Linked DNA regions of Homo sapiens. The protein of the gene in region 1 interacts with the protein of each later gene in a biochemical or structural test. Each region holds a gene or a part of one and is shown on either strand. Other genes may lie near its edges.

Region 1 (7,776 bases):
CACTGCGGCCACAGGGGCCTCAGCCAAGCCCAGGGACCCCACCCAGCTGTGGGGAGGGAAGGAGGGGTGAAAGAAGGCAGCCAGCCCCAGGCCAACAGGAGACCCCAGCCCTGGGGAGTGGAGGCCCAGAGGGCCCTCGAGGGCAGGGAATGGGGAGCGAGGAACCAGACCCACTCAGAATGCTCTGGGGGCTACAGGCTGAGCACGTGGCTAAGTTTCACCACAGCCTCAGTTTCCTTCTCTTGCTGATTGTTCTCTCCTGAGAACTTGGGGAAAGAGCACTGGTTAAGAGTTCTAAACATGTGTCCCCATACCTGATCAAATGTGTTCCCTTTCCAGGGCCCAGCAGTCCCACCTTCGAGTTGTTCCCTCCCGACCTCCACCCCACCACCCTTAAAACAAAACAAAACAAGACAAACAGAATTAAAGTATTGAAGTGGGAGTGTTTGGAAAAAGAACAAGATAGGAGCTGTCCCAACTCTCCCACCCAGATGTGGAGCAGGGGAGGGGGATCCCCTCCTCCCAGGGAGCTCATGGTGCAGTGCCCAGCCTGGCCTCCCAGCGGAAGTGCTCACTAGACATCTCAGGGCTGACTGGCCTTAGGTTTGGAGCAGTCAAGGTCCCATTTTCCAGTTCTCAACTTTCTCAGCCTTCTCCCAAGTTTCTTCGTTTTCCCAGCTTCCCAATTCTCCTTTCCCACCTAGGCCCCCAACAATTTCTTCCCCTTCCCTGTTCCCCTGAATCTCACTTGGCCGAGGTGAGCCCCCCATCAAGCAGCAGCTGCTTCCCACTGCCAGAGAGCCCACCCATACAAGGTGGAGGGCTTCCTGGGGAGGTGGGGAGGAAGTTGAGGGCCCAGGTACTCAAAAACTAGGTGCAAGTGGTCGAGGGACAGGAGGGACTGGTGTGCCTTCGTGTTGCAGGCATCTCCAGCTCACAGGAGTGAGGGGACATGAAAGTCTAGCTTCCACAACACTCTCCTTTCGCCATGCACTATCCCAATCCCATGTCTTTCCAGCAGGCCTCTGGGCCAGTCCCTCCCAAGCCACCAGCGCCACGTTGGCAACACTGGCATGATGCCCACGCCCACTGACACTGTCCCTGCCCTGGGTGGACCCAGGATTTCCATGCATCTTATTCCTCAAGACCACAGTGTTTCAATGATGGCTCAAAATAGAGTCTGTTGGGGAGGTGGCAGGATGACAGTCTGCTCCCATTGCAGCTACGGGTAGACCCCTGGCTGGATACAGAGTGTGACAAGGGACGTGGTGTCCATCTGGTTGGCTTGCATGCTATTCCCCCAAACTCAGCCACAAATTCACTATCTCACAGCCTTGTGCACACACCATTTATCACTTGGACTCACAGCACTCAGATGGCCCAACTTACACACACACACACACACACACACACACACACACACACACACACTCTCAGGGCCTGTGGCACCCTCGACTGCACCCTAACGATTACACTCAGGCCAATGAACACAGGTGTTAAAAGACTCCTGCCCCATCTCACAAACACACACCTCTCCCACAGGTTGAGTGAGTTGGCTTCCTGTTTGGCCCAGCACCCCTGGGCCTGAGCTAGGGCACTGGGAAGAGAGATGTGGGACCCAAGAATAGGGAAGAGTCAAGGCTACTGAAGGGGACTGACTTTCAGGGAGGGCCCTCTGGCCCTAAATTCCTGCAGAGAGACCCAGAAAGCAGGACAGAGATGGTGACAGAGGAACAGTGTCAGAGACCCAGAAGCAGGGAGGAATCTGGCCCTGAGTGGCTGTGAGCCCTGCCTTCCCAACTCTGTGCCTTGGGTCCCCCAGAAGCCAGAGTAGAGTCAGAAATTTCTCAAGACCCCAAACCCTGACCCCAGTGGTACCCCAATTCCCTTTGTCCCCAGCACCAGAGGCAAGGGATGCTGGGGTCCCAGCCCGGAGGGGAAGTGGCCCAGTCCGCCCTGGAGCCTCCCACTCCCAAAATAGAGCTGAGTTTGTCTTTGGCTGAAAGCTAAATATTTGTAAGCCGGGCAAGCGGCCTCAGACCCCGTCCCTCCTCCTTGGTTCCCTCACAGGCCTGGGCTCAGTTCCCCTGGTCAGCTCCCCCACAGGCACAGGCTGGCCTCCTCCTTTCTCTCATAGCCTACCTCCTCTCCTCCACACACCAGCTCACGGGCCCAGCCCCCTCCCCACAAAACCAGGCAAGATCCTGTCTGGGCTACGAGTCCCAGGAGACGGGACCCCTAAAGAGCTATACCCAGTTGCTGCTCTGTGCCCACTCAGCCAGTCCTCTCTGCCTTCTATCTCTTCTGCCAGCTTATGTATTTCCCACCCCTCTCTCCTCACTCCCCCTCGCCCCCCTCCCCCTCCTTTCTCCATCGCTTTTCCACTCCTCACAGTCAGTGTGCTTAGCTGACCTTAGGTAGGGGTCCATGCCTTCTTCTGACCTAATCCCCTCTCACCCTCTTTCCACTGCCCTCTGACCCCTGGCCCTATTCTTCCCTCCCTTTTCTCCTGCCCTCTGCTTCCCCTTTCTTGGACCCCACTCCTCTCTCCTCATCAGAAGGACCCCTGGAATTGACAAGCACCACAGCTACTATCTATGTGAGTTGGAGGAGGTGGGTGGGCAAGGACTAGGACCATTAAGGTTGTGGCTGGTTTCCTGGGGGGAAGAGGGGACAGTTACCTCAAGCAGGGAGGACGCCATCCTGAGGCTGGGGAACGGGTCCCAAGGAGCCAGGCAGATGGAGAGAGCTGAGCCGGGGGGTGGGGGGGGTAGAGAGAGAAAAGGGAGAGGGAGGGAGAATGGGAGAATGGGAGAGAAGAGATCTAAAGTTAGAAGGGACCGGGGTGGGGGGCTGCTCTCTGTCTGTAGGGATCCACCCTCTAATTACAGCTTTCCCAGCGGAGAAGGCTCCAGATCCAATGAGGAGGGCGAGAGAGGGAGGCAGAGGGTCCAAATTTCCTGCTCCATTTGCTGAGCTCCCCAAAGAAGGGATCAGGGAGGGAGAGGAGAAAAAGGGGCGCCCATGGAAGGGGTGGGAAGCAGGAAGAGGGGAGAGCAGCATGGGCAAGTTGTCAGGGCTTCCTCGGGGGGCTGCTGAGGGGAGAGGTTAAAGGGATGGTGGACCCCGGTGTCCTACACGCGGCAGCAGTCCCATAGGCATCTGTGGGCACCCCTCCCAGAGCTCCCCAGTGTCATGTACCTGGGGGAACCTGGGGCTGGCTGTCCCGAGTCTCTCCTCTCTGGAGGTCTGGCAGGGAGAGTGCAGGCAACGGGTGGCCTGAGGGTGCTGGGAGGGATCCGCTCTCTCCCAGGCCAGCTCCACTCCTGTTCCACTCAGGCTCCGGTCCTACAGTCCTACTCTGACTCCAGAGTCCTTGCTGCTGCTCGGCGGCTGCTGCTTCTGCTACTGCTGCTGCCTAGGCTGCTGCCGCCCGCCGCTGCTGAGGGAAGGAACAGGAGGGAAAAGGAACAAACCCCAAACCACTAATTAGAGATCCAGGGGGGGGATGGGGGGTTGGGGACGACACTCACACAGAGAGACTGGAACGCACTGACATACACACTCATGGCCAAACACAGGGGTGATGCATGCACACGTACACACAGTACCACTCACATGGGTACAGCCACTATCATGAATGAACACAGACGGACACACACAAATGCACACAGTGACGCACTGGAGGCACACGCACCACACCCGCCCCAGCTGACCATGGAGAGGCTTGCTTCCCCAGTCACCCACCTGCCTCTAGATCAGGAGAGCAGTGTGTATGTGCCCCTGTGTGTGTGTACGTGCCCGTGTGTGTGTGTGTGTGTGTATGTTGTGGGAAGAGGCATGGAAGGTTCTGAGGTGGAGGTTTCTGCTGCCTAAACTTTTAGTGTCACTGAGGTTGGTTCCAGAGCAAGGCCTGGAGGAAGGGTTGAAGAGTTGGGGAAGGCTTGGTATTGGCTTGGGGGTCCCTCAGTCTTCCTCCCAGTGCCTCAGTTTCACTGTTTGGAGGTGATACCTAGGCCTACCTCACTTTGTGGGGCAGAACCTGGATCTTCTGATGAAGAGAAAATTTAAGACAAGCAGGAGTGAGGGTGGCGGTAGAAGGTCATTGGGTCAACTCATTCATGCCGACACCTAACCTCTTTGGATTATTTCCCCCAAAAAGAAATGCCCTAACCTCCATATTCCTTGTCAGTTACCATCCCTGGGTAACCAAGTTACCATCTCTTAGAGACCATGGGTTTAATCTCCATCCTTTGGTGGACAGTTCTCCAGAGTGATCTGACTTTCCTGGGAACTCCTGGTTCCCTTTCTCATTGCCATGCATCAATTCCCTCTTCCACAGAAAGAACTGAAGTTAGAACTTAATAAGGACTTCCCAACAAAATAGGAAGTAAGAGAAGGAAGGGCAGCCAGGTTAGGAGGGAAACCCAAAAAGTCTATTACCTGAAACCTGGGCCATGGGCCCTGAGGTATTTATGGGAGAGAGGACTGGGCAGCTAAGTGGTGACACCGGCAGCTCTCCCACAGGGGGGCTTAGCCCGCTGGGGTTGTTTTACAGGTTATTCCTTAACACACACTTCTCCCCCTCCCAGCTCTCCCTGTCAGGGGAATAAAGCCCCATCCTTTCCACTCTCCTCACTCTGCAACACCATCCCCTCACTTTCTCGGAGTGCCCAATTCCTTGCTCCTTTTGCTCTCCCAGATCTCCAAAGAAAAAGCTGGGAGGTGGCAGGAGCAGATGGAGGTCCACGGAGGGTTGCACAGCAGTTTCGCCAGCAGGTAGGCACCAATTTCAGGGTAGGGCCCAGGAGTTCTGGATTCTAGCCCCATGATTTGATTTACCTCAAGGAACTCTGGGAACCCAAGGTTTAGGGGAAGGGTTTGGGAACCAGGTGGCTGATAGACAAAGAGAAAGCAGCAAAAGAAGAAACAGAGCAAATGAAAGAGTCCAAGACAATCAGAAGAGATATCACCAGGTATAAGAGAGAGGAAACAGGAAAACAGAAGACCAGATGTGTGGCTTTAAACAACAACAACAACAACAACAAAAAACAGAGCAGGAAAGAAACTAAAAAGATAAAGAAACAGGCCCAGAGGAACAAAGATGGGGAGACAATGGCTTGGGAAGGACAGAGAAAATAGCCTGAGGCATAGCCAGGTCCGGAGGAGGAGGAGGAGGAGGAGGAGGAGGAGGGTTGTGTTGCCAGGCAGGTGGGGGGGCGGGGAAGGAGTATAAATAGCACATAATTGTGTCCGCTGATTACACGGGCCACCCCACCCGTCTGCCTGAGAGGAAGTGCCCGTGGTGGGGTGTCCCTGTGACCTCGCGGTCTCCCCCTTGTTGGGGGGGAGTCTGAGACTGAGGTGCCAGATGGCTTTCCGGGGCCCCGAACTCAGAAGTTGAGAAAGAGAAGCTTTAGAGAAATTCCTGTATCACCAGCAGAAAAGCCCGACCCAGTTAGATCAGGCAGGAAACTGAGGCAGAGGAGGAGAAAGTCTAGATTCTAAAGAAGAGATAGCAGGTGAGGAGGGGGTTGGGACTCAGATTAGATGAGAGAAGAAAGGAAGAAACTGAAGGGGAAAAGGAGGAAGGATGGAAAGATAAATGGACAGACAGGGCTGGGGAGAGGAGTTGGAAGGAAGGGTCACCTTCTCACTCCCCGTGTGGGCTTTAATCCCTAACCCTACCCGGGAAGGGGCAGACGTATTCAAACCCTACTATTCTCTATTCGAACCCTACTATTCTCGGAGAAATAAAAAGGAGGAGCAGAGTCCCAGGAAGATGTGAGCCAGTGCCCCGATGTGTCAACATAGGACACCCTCTGGACACAGAGCCTCTTCCCCACCAGAGATCAGCGCCAAAGATAGGCAGAGGGGCTGCCTGAATCCCCCAGCTGCTGCCCTCAGGAACCCCTGGGTTCTGACTTCTCCATGTCCTTTTTAAAAATAGTCCTGCAGCCCAGCTGAGGCTCTGGTGTTCCTGGGTCCAGCTCCCCAGTCTCCTTCCCAGTGCCCTGAGGGGCTGGGGGCAGCAATTGGAAGCCCTAACCAAGGACCTACCTCCACCCTCTCAGGCCTCCCTCAGCCCAGCCTCCCAGGGGGTGGGGCAGACCAGGGAGAGGCGCCATGTGGCAGGGGCGGGTAGAGGCTGCGGCTCTGGTCCTTCCAGTATAAACCCCCTAGGCATCTGGTTTCTATCCACCACCCCCCACCACCCTGGGGGCCCCTCAGCCTCCGCCCATGGCCACCCAGACGCTGAGCTCCAAGGGATGGATGCCCCAGACGGAAGGGGTGGGATGATGCCTTTCTGATATCCCAATGCCAGGACTGGGCTGAACCACAGGAACCATTCCCTTCCCACCCTCCCCTAGGAGAATCAGGGTGGGCTTTGTAGGTTAGAGGGGGTTGAATCTGGCACCTGCCTCAGTTCTCCAAATGATTTTGGATCTTTTTGGAAAGATCAGTGGGGTGAAAACAGAATGAAAACTGGGGAGAGTGGGGCCGGGTGCAGTGGCTCACGCCGGTAATCCCAGCGCTTTGGGAGGCCAAGGTGGGTGGATCACCTGAGGTCAGGAGTTTGAGACAGCCTGGCCAACATGGTGAAACCCCGTCTCTACTAAAAATACAAAAATCAGCTGAGCGTGGTGACGGGTGCCTGTAATCCCAGCTACTTGGGAGGCTGAGGCAGTAGAATCACTTGAACCCAGGAGGTGGAGATTGCAGTGAGCTGAGATCATGCCATTGCACTCCAGCCTGGGCAACAAGAACAAAACTCCATCTCAAAAAAAAAAAAAAAGAAAGAAAAAAAAAACTGGGGAGAGTGGGAGACCTGTACCCCCTATTCCCAAGGGATGCTACTTCCATCGTCCACACCATCACCCTCTACCACCTTTCTAGGCTGGGCTGTCTCTAAGAGCCTCATCCAAAGGGACTCCCAACTCTTCATTGTTGCTGTTATAGAAGGTTTGACTACCCTAGGGAGAATCACCAGAGAATAGTGAGCAGAGCCCCTGAAATAGAGACTGACACATGCCCTAATACATACCTGATGACAGACACATTCAGATCTGCATACTTGCACACACACAAGGTGACACATAATTCATACACATTTGTACTATGCAGGCATCCATATTGACACACACTGATATATACATATACAGATAATGCTTACCCCAAGACACCCTAACCCCCAATCATAAAAATGCACACACCAGTATATATATACATGCATACAGACTCACAGCCACCTAGAATACTCCCCACATGGACTCACAGACTCCCATCAACACACGTATCTACACATGTGGCAAATGTCACATACATATACCCAGGGCTACCATTACAACTTTACAGCCCTGGAGATCTCTGTGGTCTCCTAAAGGGCATTTGGGAACCCCTCTCCCTATAAGGATCTGGAGATAAGGGTGATATGGAGGCCACTGCCAGTCCTGCAAATTGCTGCCTCCAACTCCTACTAGTATAAGAAGTTCCAGTGTACCTTTAGGTACTTTTGATCCAATACTCCACACACACACCAGAGTTCAGAGACCCAGATGGCCCCAGCGAACTCCCTGGTCCTGGGGAACCCCAGCATCCCTACCCCCACCCAGGCCCCCGCTGCTCTGCGGCCCCGCTGACTCATCTCTCCCTCTGTGGAGCTCCCCAACCACAGGGGCCTGGAAGAGAAGCTTGGAAAGTTGCGCTCATGTCCCGGGCCCCTGGTCTGGCCACTACCCGCCCATGCACCCAGCCCAGCCCTTGTCTCCAGTGGAT
Region 2 (7,468 bases), on another chromosome or scaffold:
ACGGACCCTGCGGGCGCCGCGGCCGGCGTTTGACACCTGCGCTTGGGACACAATGGCCGCAGGCCCTCTTCGGGACCGGTGCCTTTCTCGGTGTTAGGGAACCTCTGAACCTGAGCTGTGTTTTCAAACAAACAAACAAAAATAACCAGCTCTCCCGGCTCTTCCCGGTGAACACACGTGAATTTTGGGGTCAGAGGGTTGTGAAGGTATAACTGCGCCATCTTACTCCTCACTCTTTTAAGTCGGACTTAAAAGGTTTTGCCATTATTTATAAGGTTCTTGGGGGCTTTTTTTAAACCCTCCCCAATTGTTGGGCTAATTCACTGTTTCCACAGAATCATTCCCACTTAGAACAGTACCCTATTTTTCTAGGTTTCTTAGGCATACAAAATGAACACAGGTAAAGGCATTTAAACAAAAGAAAAATAGCCGAAGAATTTGCTAAAGCAATATTCACTTTTAAAATGCAATTTTTCCCCTAAGGTTCGAGGAGTCTTGTTCGTAGCCGTTGAAAGTATTTTTCCATCCTAAAAATATCGGTGGAAATATTGACCAGAAATAAACTTTTAAATGATCTGTGATGTTTACAAGGATATGTCTAAAACGTTTATTACATTATTTTCCTCTTAATGTGAATTCTCCACGTTTGAAACTGTAACTCGTTTTCTCATTTTTTGTTCTTCTTGTTACTTCCTCATATTGTGTACTTGGAAATTACCTTTGTAAATACTTGAGAAATTCGTTCTTATATATAATTAATATAAAAAGTTTGCATTTCTCAAAAACATCTCTATCAAAGCCTGTGTTCTCACGAGTTTAATATCAAAGTCTTAATAAAATAATCACAACTACCCAAATGCTTATAAAATATGTTCGATTACTGGATTTTTATTCATTAAACAGAATTAATTTTATTTGACATATTTAAAGGCGCCATTTAGAAATAAAATTGCTTATTATGTTGCAATGCTGTATCTATTTCAGCCTCTACACCGTTTTCTTTTTTGTTTCACCTGAAACTAGTTTTCCCTTCCGTTTTTTTTCTTGTTCTATCAAGCTAATATATATATCAACATACAGTAATGGGGTGCTGGTTTTTGTAAGTTAAATATGTACCTGCATTAAATAAATAGTAAACATGTATATATTGCTTCTTTAGTACTTTTGTTCTGTGCTGCACACTATTTTAATTTCTAGTTTTAAATTATATCTCTCTTTTCAAAGCATCTGTTCAATAAGCAAGAAAAGATATTGGCAAAGTTGAAACCATTCTAGACAAATAAAATTCAAAGGTGCTAAAACTAGCAGTTTACACACCTGTGTTTATGAGAAATGAAAAGTATAACCATGTTCTTATCCAGTATTTAAAATTTATGAGAAACATAATACAGGAAAACAAGCATCTAAAATTGTTAATGTCCGAAATTGAAGTTATTTGTCCCCATTAGCCCAGTAGATTTTGTCTGGAAGGTGGAGCTGTGGATTTTTTTTTTTTTTAACTACTTGCCTCACCTCAGTGGTGTGATCCTCCCGTCCCAAGGAGATACAACATTGTATTTTGGAAAACTTTTCTAAAACTCTGAAAATTATTTACTATTTGGCTAAGACATCCTCCTTGCTTCTTAGAAGGTGAACACATACATTTCACCCCTGTTTTATAAGAAATGGAGATACCCATTCAAAAGGAAAATAATGTAGGAGAGGTTGAAGCTAAAATTGGGCAAATTCAGAAACTGATGCTATCCCTACTTCATTGTAGGATCAGGGAGTCCAGCCCCAAGCTAAAGGCATCCCCACTTTCCAGTGGGCCTCCTGCCTTTTAAATCTCCCACATTGCAGGAAAATGGAGGAAAGCAAAATAAAATGGCCAGGCGCGGTGGCTCACGTCTGTAATCCCAGCACTTTGGGAGGCCGAGGCAGATGGATCACCTAAGGTCAGGAGTGTGAGCCCAGCCTGGCCAACATGGTGAAACCCCATCTCTACTAAAAATAAAAAATTTAGCTGGGTGTGGTGCTGGGCATCTATAATCCCAGTTACTCTGGAGGCTGAGGCAGGAGAATCGCTTGAACCCAGGATCCTGGTGGAGGTTGCAGTGAGCCAAGATGCCGTTGCACTCCAGCCTGGGTGACAAGAGCAAAACTCCACATCAAAAAAAATAATAATAAATAAATTAATTAATTAATTAAATAAAACAAGAGCTTTTCTTTTTGCTTAATAAGAGAGAGTGGTGGTGGTGCTTTTTTATTCCTGAAGATGGGAAGTCCTCTTTTGCCCACTAACCTCAGAAGAAAGGGATGAGGTGTACCGTACAGGGGCAGTCACCTTCTCCTCTGTTTAGCTTCCATTTTGGCCTCATGTCTACCCCAAAGTTGTAGCTTAGATGGGGGGAAAATTCAGAATTTTGCATAGACCATAGGTAGCACCCCCTAGAAAAAGAATGTTTCTCCCCAGATGTCTCCCACTAGTACCCTAACCATCTGCTTGTCTGTCTAGTGAGGACCCTTGGAGGGCTGCTAAAATGATCAAGGGTTACATGCAGCAACACAACATCCCCCAGAGGGAGGTGGTCGATGTCACCGGCCTGAACCAGTCGCACCTCTCCCAGCATCTCAACAAGGGCACCCCTATGAAGACCCAGAAGCGTGCCGCTCTGTACACCTGGTACGTCAGAAAGCAACGAGAGATCCTCCGACGTAAGTGTTTTCATCCTGCCTCTGCCTCAACCTGAAGTGACCTTTGCCCTCTCACCCCATTGGCTGCCTCAGTTTCCCTTTCATCGACAAGGCCTTGTGAGCACTTGGCAGATATGAGGAAGGTGGCAAGTAGATTTGGCCTTGGTGGTTGCTGTACAATGGATTGGCTTCTGTCATGTTCTTCAGTCACAGCCCCCTTGCTACCCAGCCAGTTGCTCTGAGGAGCCTGTCAGTGTATGCAGCATACCTTAAACTTTTTGGCCCCTCCTTCCACCTCCTTCTCTTTGAAACCAAGTAGGTGACAGAGTGAAATGTCTTCCCTGAGAGAAAACCCAGCATCTCCCCTTGATACGTGACCATCAGTCAATTTCCAAAGAAGACATTTCGTTGCAGTCAATAATATTGATTACTATTACTGTTAATTTCCTCCTCTCTGGAAAAAGTATCAACAATAGAATGCATTTGTATAGAGAGATATATTCAGAACTTCACCCTGTTCTTGGAGGATAGTGGGAGGGATTGAATCCTGAGGCAATTTAAGGTGTTTACCCACATTTACCAACACTGGTAGAGTGTGGGGACCTCAGCTGGTGGCCCTGCTCATGAAGAAGCTATTTCTGGCTAAGGCAGGGCACAGGAAAAGCATCTGCATTTGGAACTCTGACCCATCAATTCTTGTCATCCCCATTCCCATCCCAAAGTTTTTTTTCTGTCCCAAGATTTCTCCCACCCAATAATTCTAAAAGGTTTTTGTTTTGAAGTACGTCTAGAGAAGTTTGAACTGCCTATGAATAACAAGAGTAGGAATGACATACTGTCTGTATTTTAGGAAAGTATTCTTTGACATTACACTTTCATTACTTTGATCCAATCCTTTTCCTGGAAAATTTGTATCGGTTTTCACTCTCCCCACACACTATCCTCTGGCTTTATCTAGGCTTCTCTGTCTTTATCAAGATGTTAATTTCCACCACTATCTGGGTTTCTGGGTTGGGTTTTTTCCCTGTTGCTTTTTAAAATGACTCTTGTCTTCTGTTACACACTGCTCTGAAGTGATTGTTTCAGTATTTATTGTCTCAATGTCCCTGGGCTGGTGAAAGGAATGGTTTTAGGTGTTCATTTCATATTGTGGTGTTTGTGCTTTTGTTGGGAGCATTACATGAATAGATTGGAAGAAGCAACATGAGAGCTGTTTGCTGCTTAGAGCGAGAGACCTTTCCAAGAATGGGTTGGCCCCCCATACTTGGTGACTAGCTCTTTAAGAATTTGTGTTCCTGACATGAAGCAACTCTCTGTAGTTCCTGGAAAGCCTAAAAAAATTCTCAGGAGCCATTGTCTCCAAAGACCCAACAACGCTTGGGCCCTGCCCAATTTAAGCTTTATGCAGCATTTCCAGTCTGTGCTGCCTCTCTGTATTCAATGAGAATTTCTTCAGAAAGGAGAAGGAGGCAGGAAAGGCAGACTGGAAACTTCTCAAAAGACAGAGGTCCAGAAAGTTTCTCAAGATGCTGAGGAAGGGACGTTTTACAAATACAACAGCCTCTTCAAGAGATTGTTGTTATTGTTATTTTTGTTTTATTTATTTATTTATTTATTTAACTTTTTGAGACGGGGTCTCGCTCTGCCACCCAGACTGGAGTGCAGTGGCGCGATCTTGGCTCACTGCAAGCTCCGCCTCCCGGGTTCACGCCATTCTCCTGCTTCAGCCTCCCAAGTAGCTGGGACTGCAGGTGCCCGCCACCACACCTGGCTAATTTTTTTTTTTTTTGGTATTTTTAGTAGAGACGGGGTTTCACTATGTTGGCCAGGCTGGTCTTGATCTCCTGACCTCGTGATCCGCCGCCTCAGCCTCCCAAAGTGCTGGGATTACAGGGGTGAGCCACCGCACCCAGTTGTTATTTTTGTTTTAAAGTCACACGAGACATAAAAGCTTAAGAAACATTCCTTCCTTCTGTAACTATTATACAGGCACCTACTATGTGCCAAACACTACGCTAAGCTATGGAATACATAGGTTCTTTTCTCCAGGGACTTACCTGCCATCCAGTGAAGAAGTGGAGATGTTTGAGTAAATAATGACATTCACTTTCTAAGAGCTGTTATAAAGATATACACAAGGGGCAGCAGAGGAATTGCTAAATTGCCTGGAGACATCATGGGAGGCTTCCTAGAAGAGGTGACATTCAAATCATGTCTTGAAGGATGAATGTAAGACATGCAAGCATGATATAAGAATTAGGAAGTAAGAGAAATAAAAGAGGGACACAAGTGAATGGGGTGAGGAGAAGGAGGAAGAGGGGAGAGAATAAAAAATGATACATGATTACAAATTTCCTGGAAAAACTAAAAATAACAAATGGTAATATTCATGGGCCCCTCTACACACACAGAACCTCCTTGTCCAAGCAGCCCCCAAGCCTATAAAGAGGCTACTGAAGCCAACTTCTCCAAGATAATTTTCATGGGCAATGAACATTTTCTTCCCCAACCCCAATTAATCTGAAGGGAAGTAGAGAAGAGTTGTTGGTGGCTAGAGGGAGCAAATGTGGGAGTCTAGTTCTTCAAAAATTGGGAGAGGCTAGAGCCAAGCCCCTGATGTCAGTGGAACCCGAATGGTTCTGAGCACCTACAGGCAAACCCACCTGGCTGATTTGAGGACACACTGAGTTCTGAACACTGTTCAGCCTGCTACCTCCTCAAAGGGCAGGTGAGAGACTGAGGCAGCCCTCACACTGGGGAGCAGCTGCGAGAGTGTCTCACACCCACCAGACACAAAGCTTCAGGAATCGGTTTTGTCACCTCCACACAAGTCAGATATGAAGCGTTTGCGGGGTACGTGGCTTGGGTTTTGTTTTTAGTGAGAGGTGATGCACAGGCTGGTAGTTAGGAGCCTGCAAGCCTGCAGGCTGGGCTCGTGTCCAGGCTCCTGCCCCAAGTCCACATGACTTTGGACAAGTCACTTCACCAGTCTGAACCTCAGTTTCTTCATCTGTAAAATGGAGGTGGCTGTACTTCTCACATGGAGCGGTCGTAAGAATTAGATGAAGGAATATATTTAGAGGATTTGGCACAATACCTCACCACAGAAAAGGTTCAATAAATGTGAACCGTTATTGTGTCTGTTCACATCAAATGAAAAAATCTCACATTGCTCCCAGGCCCTTGGGATGATCCACACTGGCTTTCGCCATTGGTGACTCTACTGGTGCCACACAGGGCCCACGGGGAGGAGGGAAGACACTGTGACAGACCTCACTGAGCAGGGGACATCTCCTTCTCCCCCTTGGATTTCCCCTCAAGTAACTGCATTTAGAGAGCTGCTGTGAAGTCAAATACCATAGAGGGGCTAAAGCACTTTGAAAAGTATAATCAGGTGGGGCATGGTGGCTCACGCCTGTAACCCCAATGCTTTGGGAGGCTGAGGTGGCGGGAAGACTGCTTGAGGCCAGGAGTCTGAGACCAGCTTGGGCAACATAGCGAGACCCCGTCTCTACAAAAATAATTTTTTTTAATTAGTCAGATGTGGTGGCCTGCACATCCGTAGTCCCAGCTACTTGGGAGGCTAAGGCGAGAGGATGGCTTGAGCCCAGGAGGTCAAGGCTGCAGTGAGCTATGATCGTACTACTGCATTCCAGCCTGGGTCACAGAGCAAGACCTTGTTTGAAAAAAAGAAAAAGTATAACCCCCAAAGGAATTTGGGCCAACATCACTATCATCCTGACTAGGGGTAGATATTCTAAAAGACTAGTTAGTGTCCCTAAGCTTTCAGTCAGTCTCATTCCACAGCTGGGGAGACTAAATGATGAGGGAATTAAGCTGGGGCCCCACATGATCCCACTAGCAGTGACTTCCTGCTAGTACATTTGACAGGGACTCTCTCAGGTCTATAGTGGCATTGTTGGGCACCACTGAAAACAGAGCCCTAAGGTGGCCTAAGAATCCTCCAAGGTGAATGGGCCGAAATCAAAGGCCCCAGTGACACCATCAGTCCACAGTTAAACAAAGCCCAACACCACCTGCAGTTGGGATTGCAAGTCTTGGCGGGCTAGGGGCCCTAACCATTCCTCCCGATGGAGCAAAATGGAAATGAGCCTAAGACAGGTGGTAAGTTCCCTGCTGCTGGAGGCATATAGCCTGGAGGGCCACTTGGTGTGGGGTTGTAGAGGGGATTCAAACGTTAAGTAGTAGCCTGACTTGAACCTTGAGGATTTTGGATCCAGTTGTCCAAAGGAACAGGAAGGATGGCATGTAAATGATGGCACATCATTTACATCACAAAGGGAGGTGGTAGCCTTCCACTTTCTGTGACCTGTGGGAGTAATTACAGGAACTGAGAAAGAAAGTCATCAAGGTCGGGCACGGTGGCTCACACCTGTAATCCCTGCACTTTGGGAGGCTGAGGCAGGTGGATCACCTGAGGTCGGGAGTTTGAGACCAGCCTGCCCAACATGATGAAACCCCATCTCTACTAAAAATACAAAAAATTAGCTGGGCATGGTGCCGCACACCTATAATCCCAGCTACTCAGGAGGCTGAGGCAGGAGAATTGTTTGAACCCGGGAGGCGGAGATTGTAGTGAGCCGAGATCACACCACTGTACTCCAGCCTGGGCAACAAGAGGCAAACTCTGTCTCAAAAAAAAAAAAAAAAGATATTAAGATCCAGAACATAGGGACCCAGAGCTAGGAGATGAATGTATTACGTGTCTTTGCTCAGCAGAGTGCTTAGCCTCCATGTTTATTCATCTTTAAAATGGAATTAATCACTCCTGATG
Region 3 (7,468 bases), on another chromosome or scaffold:
GGGTGGATCATCTGAGGTCAGGAGTTTGAGATCAGCCTGGCCAACATGGCGAAACCCCATCTCTACTAAAAACACAAAAAATTAGCCAGGTATGGTGACAGGCGCCTGTAATCCCAGCTACTCGGGAGGCTAAGGCAGGAGAATCACTTGAACCCGGGAGGCAGAGGTTGCAGTGAGCCAAGGTCGCGCCATTGCACTCCAGCCTGGGCAACAAGAGCGAGACTCCGTCTCAAAATAAATAAATAAATAAATAAAAAAGACAGGCGTCTCACTGGAGTGCAGTGGCACGATCTTAGGTCACTTGGGCCCTGAACTCCCAGACTCAAGCGATTCTCCCACGTCAGCTTCCTGAGTAGCTGGGACTACAGGTGCAAACCACCATGTCTGGCTAATTTTTATTTTTGCAGAGATGGAGTCTCACTCACTGTGTTGCCTTGGCCGGTCTCAAACTCCTGGGCTCAAGTGATCCTCCCACCTCGGCCTCCTAAGGCACTGGGATATTTTCTATTTTCTTTCCTTTTTTTTTTTTTTTTTTTTTTTTTTTTTTTGAGACAGTGTCTCACACTGTTGCCCAGGCTGGAGGGCGGTGGCATGATCTCAGCTCACTGCAACCTCCGCCTCCTGGGTTCAGGCGATTCTCATGTCTCAGCCTCCCGAGTAGCTGGGATTCCAGGTGCGCCACCATGCCCAGCTAATTTTTGTACTTTTAGTAGAGATGGGGGTCTTGCTATGTTGCCCAGGCTGGTCTCGAATTCCTGGGCTCAAGCGATCCTCCCGCCTCGGCCCCTCTAAGATGCTGGGGTATTTTCATTACTATGGACGCGATTGCTGCGATGATCATTTTGATTGCAGACAATCTTCCAGGAAGCAGGGAACAGCCTGAGGCCCCGCTCCGTGTTCTGTGGCATGGAAACTAAGGCTCAGAGAGGGGCGGAGACCTGGCTGAGGTCCCACAGGGTCTCAGGGCCGGTGTGAGGATAAGAATCAGGGCCCTGACCCCCTGGAAGGCCACGGGTCCCTTTCTCAGAACAGCCTGTTCTCTGTAAGATTGGGGTCTCAGGAAGGTAGGGAGACGTTGACCCTGGACTCCCACTGTGTGTGCCAGCGGATGTGGCTGGACTCGGTCCCATTTCCAGGCCGGGATGGGCAGAGCAGCTGCTGCCAGATCACCCTCCCTGCTCTGTGCTCCACGTCCCCTTGGGCCACCTCCGGCCGTGGGGTGCTTCGGGGGGAGGGGCAGGACATCAGATTTCACCTATTACTGAGGCTCTGAAAATAGCCTCCCCACCCAGTGAGACCAGAGTCAGCTTGTACCAGCGAAGCTCCCCCACCCCAATGTCCCCCAAAGCGTGAGTCACCGTAACAGCTGCGGCGGGGACCGGACCTCAGGGCCCTTTTCCGCTGCCCCCGCTTCCCCAGCCAACCTGCTAAGGCAAAGGGGAGGTGGAGGGGGCCCGGCCCAGGCCCTGTCCAATCTCGTCCCTGCCCCTGACTGGATGAGACCCAGAGATGGGGAGTGGTTTGTCCAGGGTCACACAGCCGGTCAGCAGAGCTGGGACCAGAGCCCAGATGGTCTGGCCAGGGAAGCCGGGCAGTGGGGGTGGTGGGGGGCACAGTGGGACGCGGCAGAGAGGACCCATAGAGGCGCAGGACCTGCCTGTGGAGGAGATGCCAGGCGGGCAGGAGGCCCGGACAATGTTGTCCAGCTGGGGCCGTGGCTGCCACCCAAGCTCTGGCGCTTACTGGGGCTGTGATAAGAGGCTGCTGGAAGGGACAGGGGAGGCATCCATGATGGGGGCAGGGATCACTGTCCCCCCAACTCCTTCTCTCCCCAACCCCCCTCTCTCTCTGAATTCCCCCTCCCCACTTCCCCTCTCCTCTTAATTCCTTTTCTCATCTGGCCCCTCGTAGATCTGAGTTCCCTTCCTCCTCCCTAACTGTCCCTCCCTTCTCTATGTTCCTCCCCTTCTCTGTGCCCTTTCCGGGGACAGGTGCCAGGGAGGCGGGCAGGGGTGGGGGCCCACGTCAGTGGTGACCCCGGCTAGTTACAGAGGCAGGAAGACAAACAGCTTGTAACTGGGTCATGGACCTGCTGCCCCATCCTCCCTTGTCCTCCCCAGGGGATCAGACCACGTGAGAGGCAGGGCCTGGTTGGCCGGTTGTCACTCTGTTTCTCCCACATGACCTGCAATAACCAGGGCCTCTTCCCCAGGGACCTCCTACTGCCCTCAGAGGCCCAACCGGCAAAAGAGATAACCAAGACAAGCTAGATGCTGAAAATCCTCCCAAACTCCTACACATCCCTCAACGCCCTATCTCTAGTGTCCCCTCCTTCAAGCAGCCTTTCCTCCTCAACCCAGGGTTTCCCAGATCTAGCCAGGACCATCCAGTTCTATCACCTCTCCCTCTCCAATCCTGAGGCCCAGAGTTGAGGCACCCACTGTCGGAGAAGGTGGCTGGGTGACAGTAAGGTCTATTTTCACCATCTGAATGGCTGGGGAACAGATCACCTCAGATAAGCCTCAGTCTCTCATTCTGTACAATGGGCAGAAAGGAATATTGCAGCCTGCTGGAGACAGGGGAGCTTGCCTGGTGACCTTGTTCCTTGCAAGGTGATGGGGAGAAGGGGAACAAGGCTAGGTCTTTCCTGGAAACCCCAGCTTAGCCCACTGGGACTTCCTGGCCAAAGAGAGCAGCAGCAGCTGGGAGAGACATCTGGACCCAAGACCTTGCTGAACGACCACGCCATGCACTGGGTGATGCCCTCACTCACCTCCCTGTGCTCCTCCCACCCTGAAAGTCCAGGCCAGCAAACCAGGACAAGAAACTCCAATTTCCAAACCAAAAGTTTCCAGGTAAAAGTGACTCAACAATCCTTCATGAGAATCTAGCTCATTACCTACTTAGCACTTATCCCAAATTCCTACGCATCCTTCAAAGCCTTAGTTCTAATGCCTTCTTCTCCGGGTCGGATGACTTGTCCATGGTCCCACGGACAACCCCAGGCCCATCCGGCACCAGCGTCAGGCTCTAACCTTGGGCCGCTCCTTCCCCTGGCTCAGAAAATCACAGCCTGTGGACATGTGAACGGCTCCCAGAGAGGGAAGATTCATTCTGTTGCTCAGCAAACATTTAGTGAGTGCCTGCTGCATGCCGGTCCCAGGTAGGGTGCCGAGGACTTGGCAGGGACCTGGGCTCGGCCCTCACCTGGATCCAGATCTGGGGCAGGGACGGATGGTTAAAATCAGCAAAATATGTAATAAAACGTCAAGTTGGGCAAAGTGCTCTGAAGAAATTTAAGAGTTTGAGGGACCAGAGAATCTCTGGGGTGGGGGGTGTTTTTTAGCTTGGGGGGGGGGTCCAGGAAGGTCTCTTGCAGGAGGAGACACCTGAACAAAGTCTTGAGAGATGGCACTCCAGGCCAGGAGCTTTCTGATGGAGAAATGGGTCATGCAAAGGCCCTGGGGCAGGACCGCACCTGGCGTGTTAGAGGAACAGCGAGGAGGCCCATGTGGCTGGAGCAGAATGAGCAAGGGGGAAAGAGAGAGGAGGGGAGGGTTGAGGAGGGGACAAGGACAGGCTGGGCAGGGCCTTGTGGGCCACAGTGAGGAATTTGGGTAAACTGAGTCCACAGGGTTCAAACTCTCTGCCAAGGCAGTGAGTCAGCAAAATGAACCCTGGGTCCCCTACTTCCCTCTGTGCCTTGATGTTCTGGGAGGACAATGAGGGCTGAGCCAGAGGGGCCAGGAGGTGGAGGAGAGAGGCAGGGAGCGAGGCTGTGCCTCTTACAGGCTGAGCGTTTGCTGAGCTATCACGTCTACTACGAAATAGGGGCCGGGCGCGGTGGCTCACACCTGTAATCCCAGCACTTTGGGAGGCCGAGGCGGGCGGATCACCTGAGGTCAGGAGTTCAAGACCAGCCTGGCCAACATGGTGAAACCCCATCTCTACTAAAAACACCAAAATTAGCCAGGTGCGGTGACACACACCTGCAATCCCATCTACTTGGGAAGCTGAGGCGGGAAAATCGCTTGAACCCGGGAGGCGGAGGTTGCAGTGAGCCCAGATTGTGCTACTGCACTCTAGTCTGGGCGACAGAGCGAGACTCTGTTTCAAAAAAAAAAAAAGTCTACTATGAAAGTGGGGACTATCATTGCACCCACTACCTCGAGGAGGAGACTGAGGCATGAAATCTTCCACCAAAGTCACACAGTCAGGGAGGAACTGAGCTGGGACTGGTCCCTGGGCCTCCTGGCACCCCCCCACCCCACTCCTGGGCCCCTTGAGCAAACAGTCTCGGGCCAGAGCGTCCAGTGACACCTGGTCTGCACCGTGCACACTCTCCGAGTCCCACGTGGTTCCCTTCCCCTTGTTTGATCCCCGAGGTCGGTCGCACACCACATCCTCAAGGAGTCCTGGTCACCTCGTTTCCTGCCCGTCCCCGACCCGGCCTAGACTGTCGGTCCCACAAGGGCACAGCTTTGATCTGTTAGCATCTCCAGCATCCAGACCACTGAAGCAATGCTCCCATCTTCTGCCTCTGGGACCCCCCTTATCCATGCACCCCCATGTGTAAGGAAGGCTGGTACCCACACAGGGCTGGTCAAACTCAGGGAGACCCTGGACAGGGCTGGGCAGGGAGAAAAGACTAACAGAGGCCGGGCACGGTGGCTCATGCCTGTAATCCCAGCACTTTGGGAGGCCGAGGCAGGTGGATCACCTGAGGTCAGGAGTTTGAGACCAGCCTGGCCAACATGGTGAAACCCCGTCTCTACTAAAAATACAAAAGTTAGCCAGGCGTGGTGGCACGTGCCTGTAATTCCAGCTACTTGGGAGGCTGAGGTAGGAGAATCGCGTGAACCCAGGAGGCGGAGGTTGCAGTGAGCTGAGATCACGCCACTGCACTCCAGCCTGGGCGACAGTGCAAGACTCCGAGAGAGAGAGAGAGAGAGAGAGAGAGAGAGAGAGAGAGAGAGAGGGAGAGAGAGGGAGAGAGAGAGAAAGAGAAGGAAAGAAGGAAGGAGGGAGGGAGGGAGGGAAGGAAGGAAGGAAGGAAGGAAGGAAGGAAGGAAGGAAGGAAGGAAGGAAGGAAGGAGAGAGAAAGAAAAAAGAAAGAAAAGAAAAACTAACAGAAATGCCACAGTAGAGAGGGGTCTGAGCCTGGGCCTTTCCAGGTCACCACTGTCCTTGTCACCCAGCCCAAAGCTGGGCTTACGCTGCGCAAATACACACAGAGGGAAGGGAGGGAAACTGGAAAATGCCTCTGGGGTGTTCAATGCAATTACTAGTTTAGCAACAACCATAAGCACAGCAGCACTTATTTGGCACCTACTGTATACCAGGTGTCGGACTAAGGTACATCGATGTCTCTGAGGAAAGTGCCATTATGTTTTTTATTTTATGTTGGCGGAGAAATGGAGGCTCGGGAAGACCAAAGTCCCGCCTCTCAACCAAAAACATTCATTCATTCATTCATTCATTCATTCATTCGTGCAACAGGTATTTATTGGGCACCTACTGAGTACCAAGCCCTGCACTGTGGACCTCAGAAATGTCCTGCCTCCCCGGAGGCTGCAGTGAGCCAAGATCGCACCGCTGCACTCCAGCCTGGGCGACAGAGCGAGACTCTACCTCAAAAAAAAAAAAAAAAAAAAATTGTGCTGCCTCCCTGAATCTGCAGCAGCCCTGAGGAAGTGGGGGTTTCTGCTGACTTCATTTCAGGGCAAGAAACGGTCCGGGGGTGGGGGCAGGTCACCCACCAGAGTCAGGAAAGAGGAGAATTAGTTTAGCAACAATCACAAGCACAGCAACACTTATTTGGCACCACTCTATAGCAGTTATTTGGCACCTTCTCTATACCAGGTACTATATTGGGTTTGGCACCTCCTGAGCAAGATTTTCAGGCAGATGTGAGGGGCACTCTAGGTCTGTGTGTTGGTGACCCCCATCAAGGCAGATCCGAGGCAGGCAGAGCTGTGTCCTCGTCCGTATGGGTGTCAGGGAGTGTGCACGCGTGTGCGCCCAGCGTGTGCTCATGGATGTGAACTGGTCAGGACTTGGGTGCCCGCACGCTGTGTGCTCAGGGCAGATGGGCACCCAGGTGAGGTCGGCGTGGACACAGGCAGGAGAGTGGGGGGCGGGCCGTGTCCGGGGCAGGAGGCCCAGGCAGCATTTCCCATCCATTTGGTGTGAGACAGGGAGGGAGGCCAGCTCAGAGAGACAGAGAGAGAGAAAGAAGAGGAGGAACAGAGAGAGAGGAAGGGAGGGAGAAAGAAAGAGACAGACAGAGAGAAAGAAGAGGAACAGAGAGGGAGGTAGGGAGGGAGAAAGAGAGAGAGAAGAGAGAAGGAGAGAGGGAGAGAAGGGAGACGGGGAGAGAGAGAGAAAGGAAGAGGGAAAGACGGAAAGGGAGACAGAGAAGGAGAGAGGGAGAGAGGAGGAGAGAGCGAGATGGGGGGAGAAAGGGAGGGAGACAGAGAGAGAGAGAGAGAGAGAGGAGAACGCTGACTCTGCCAGAATCCCAGCTTTGGTGATTTACAGGGCGCTTGGCCCTGGCGCGCAGAGGCACCTCCGCCGCAGAGAGGGGAGGGGGAGAAACAGAGAGAGATGCACAGAGAGACCCAGAGGGAGATACAGCGGGAGAGTGGTGGAGCCTTGTAGAGAGTGAATCAGAGGCCACCAGGCCCCGGGTGGGGGGCACACGGGGAGAGAGCGCCCACCTGCCCAAGCCGCCAGATGGAAAATGGCCTGAACCCCAGCTCTGCCAGCCCCACTGTGCCACCTCGGGCAGGCCCTGGCCCTCTCTGACTCTTAGCCCCTCTCCCGGCACTGAGGGGCTGCAGGCCCCCTGCTCCTGGTAGGCACCCCCCAAGCTCCCTCTAAGAACCTACACTGGGCCTGGGCCCTGCTGCCTCCCCCACCCCCACCTATCCCCAGGGCCCAGGAGATGCTTAAGGAAGATCTAGAAAATCCAACAAAGGTCGGGGGTCTGGGGTGGGAGGACAGCCTCTCCCAGCCTCGGTTACCCTGCTGGAGAAATGGCAGCAAAGCACATTGTGCTCCGAGAGGGCATGGGACGAACGAATGAAGGAAACAACGAACGAATGAGACAGGGACCCGGTGGCGGGATGGAGGTGGCTCGGGGAATCCGCCACGCTGCGGCCAAGAGGGACTTGGCCCCAAACCCGGAATAACTAACGTGGCGGTGGCGCCAGCGGGAGGGAGGCAGGGAGGGAGGCCCAGAGCAGGCGCGGGGAGGCCGGCCTTCCCGCCGGCAGGATTTATGGGAGCCATGGGCTCCACACAGTTCCTCTTAAGAGTAAAAGTGAAAAAGCGCTTGAGTCACCGCTGAGCCCGGCCCGGGGCTCCCAGAATGCCCCAGGGCCGCCAGCACCCACTCCCCACTCGGCGGGCCGGGCCCGGGTGGCACAGAGCGGGCTGGCACCGAGATGCCCCCCACCCCCCGCCA

Evidence for each region. Proteins that work in one complex are often made in the same cells at the same time.
Region 2: the proteins of SP7 (region 1) and HNF1B form a complex in vitro, tested with the Homo sapiens proteins (one study listed by BioGRID).
Region 3: the proteins of SP7 (region 1) and NFIC form a complex in vitro, tested with the Homo sapiens proteins (one study listed by BioGRID).

The regions. Positions count from the first base shown.
Region 1 is NC_000012.12:53,332,945-53,340,720, forward strand, and holds the start of SP7 (transcription factor Sp7), read right to left. Parts: upstream 3,411-7,776; 5' UTR 3,202-3,410; intron 2,833-3,201; exon of another isoform or gene 2,750-2,832; 5' UTR 2,703-2,749; coding exon 2,682-2,702; intron 1-2,681. UniProt on the Homo sapiens protein: Transcriptional activator essential for osteoblast differentiation. Binds to SP1 and EKLF consensus sequences and to other G/C-rich sequences.
Region 2 is NC_000017.11:37,734,666-37,742,133, reverse strand, and holds part of HNF1B (hepatocyte nuclear factor 1-beta), read left to right. Parts: intron 1-2,494; coding exon 2,495-2,694; intron 2,695-7,468. UniProt on the Homo sapiens protein: Transcription factor that binds to the inverted palindrome 5'-GTTAATNATTAAC-3'. Binds to the FPC element in the cAMP regulatory unit of the PLAU gene. Transcriptional activity is increased by coactivator PCBD1.
Region 3 is NC_000019.10:3,369,509-3,376,976, reverse strand, and holds part of NFIC (nuclear factor 1 C-type), read right to left. Parts: intron 1-7,468.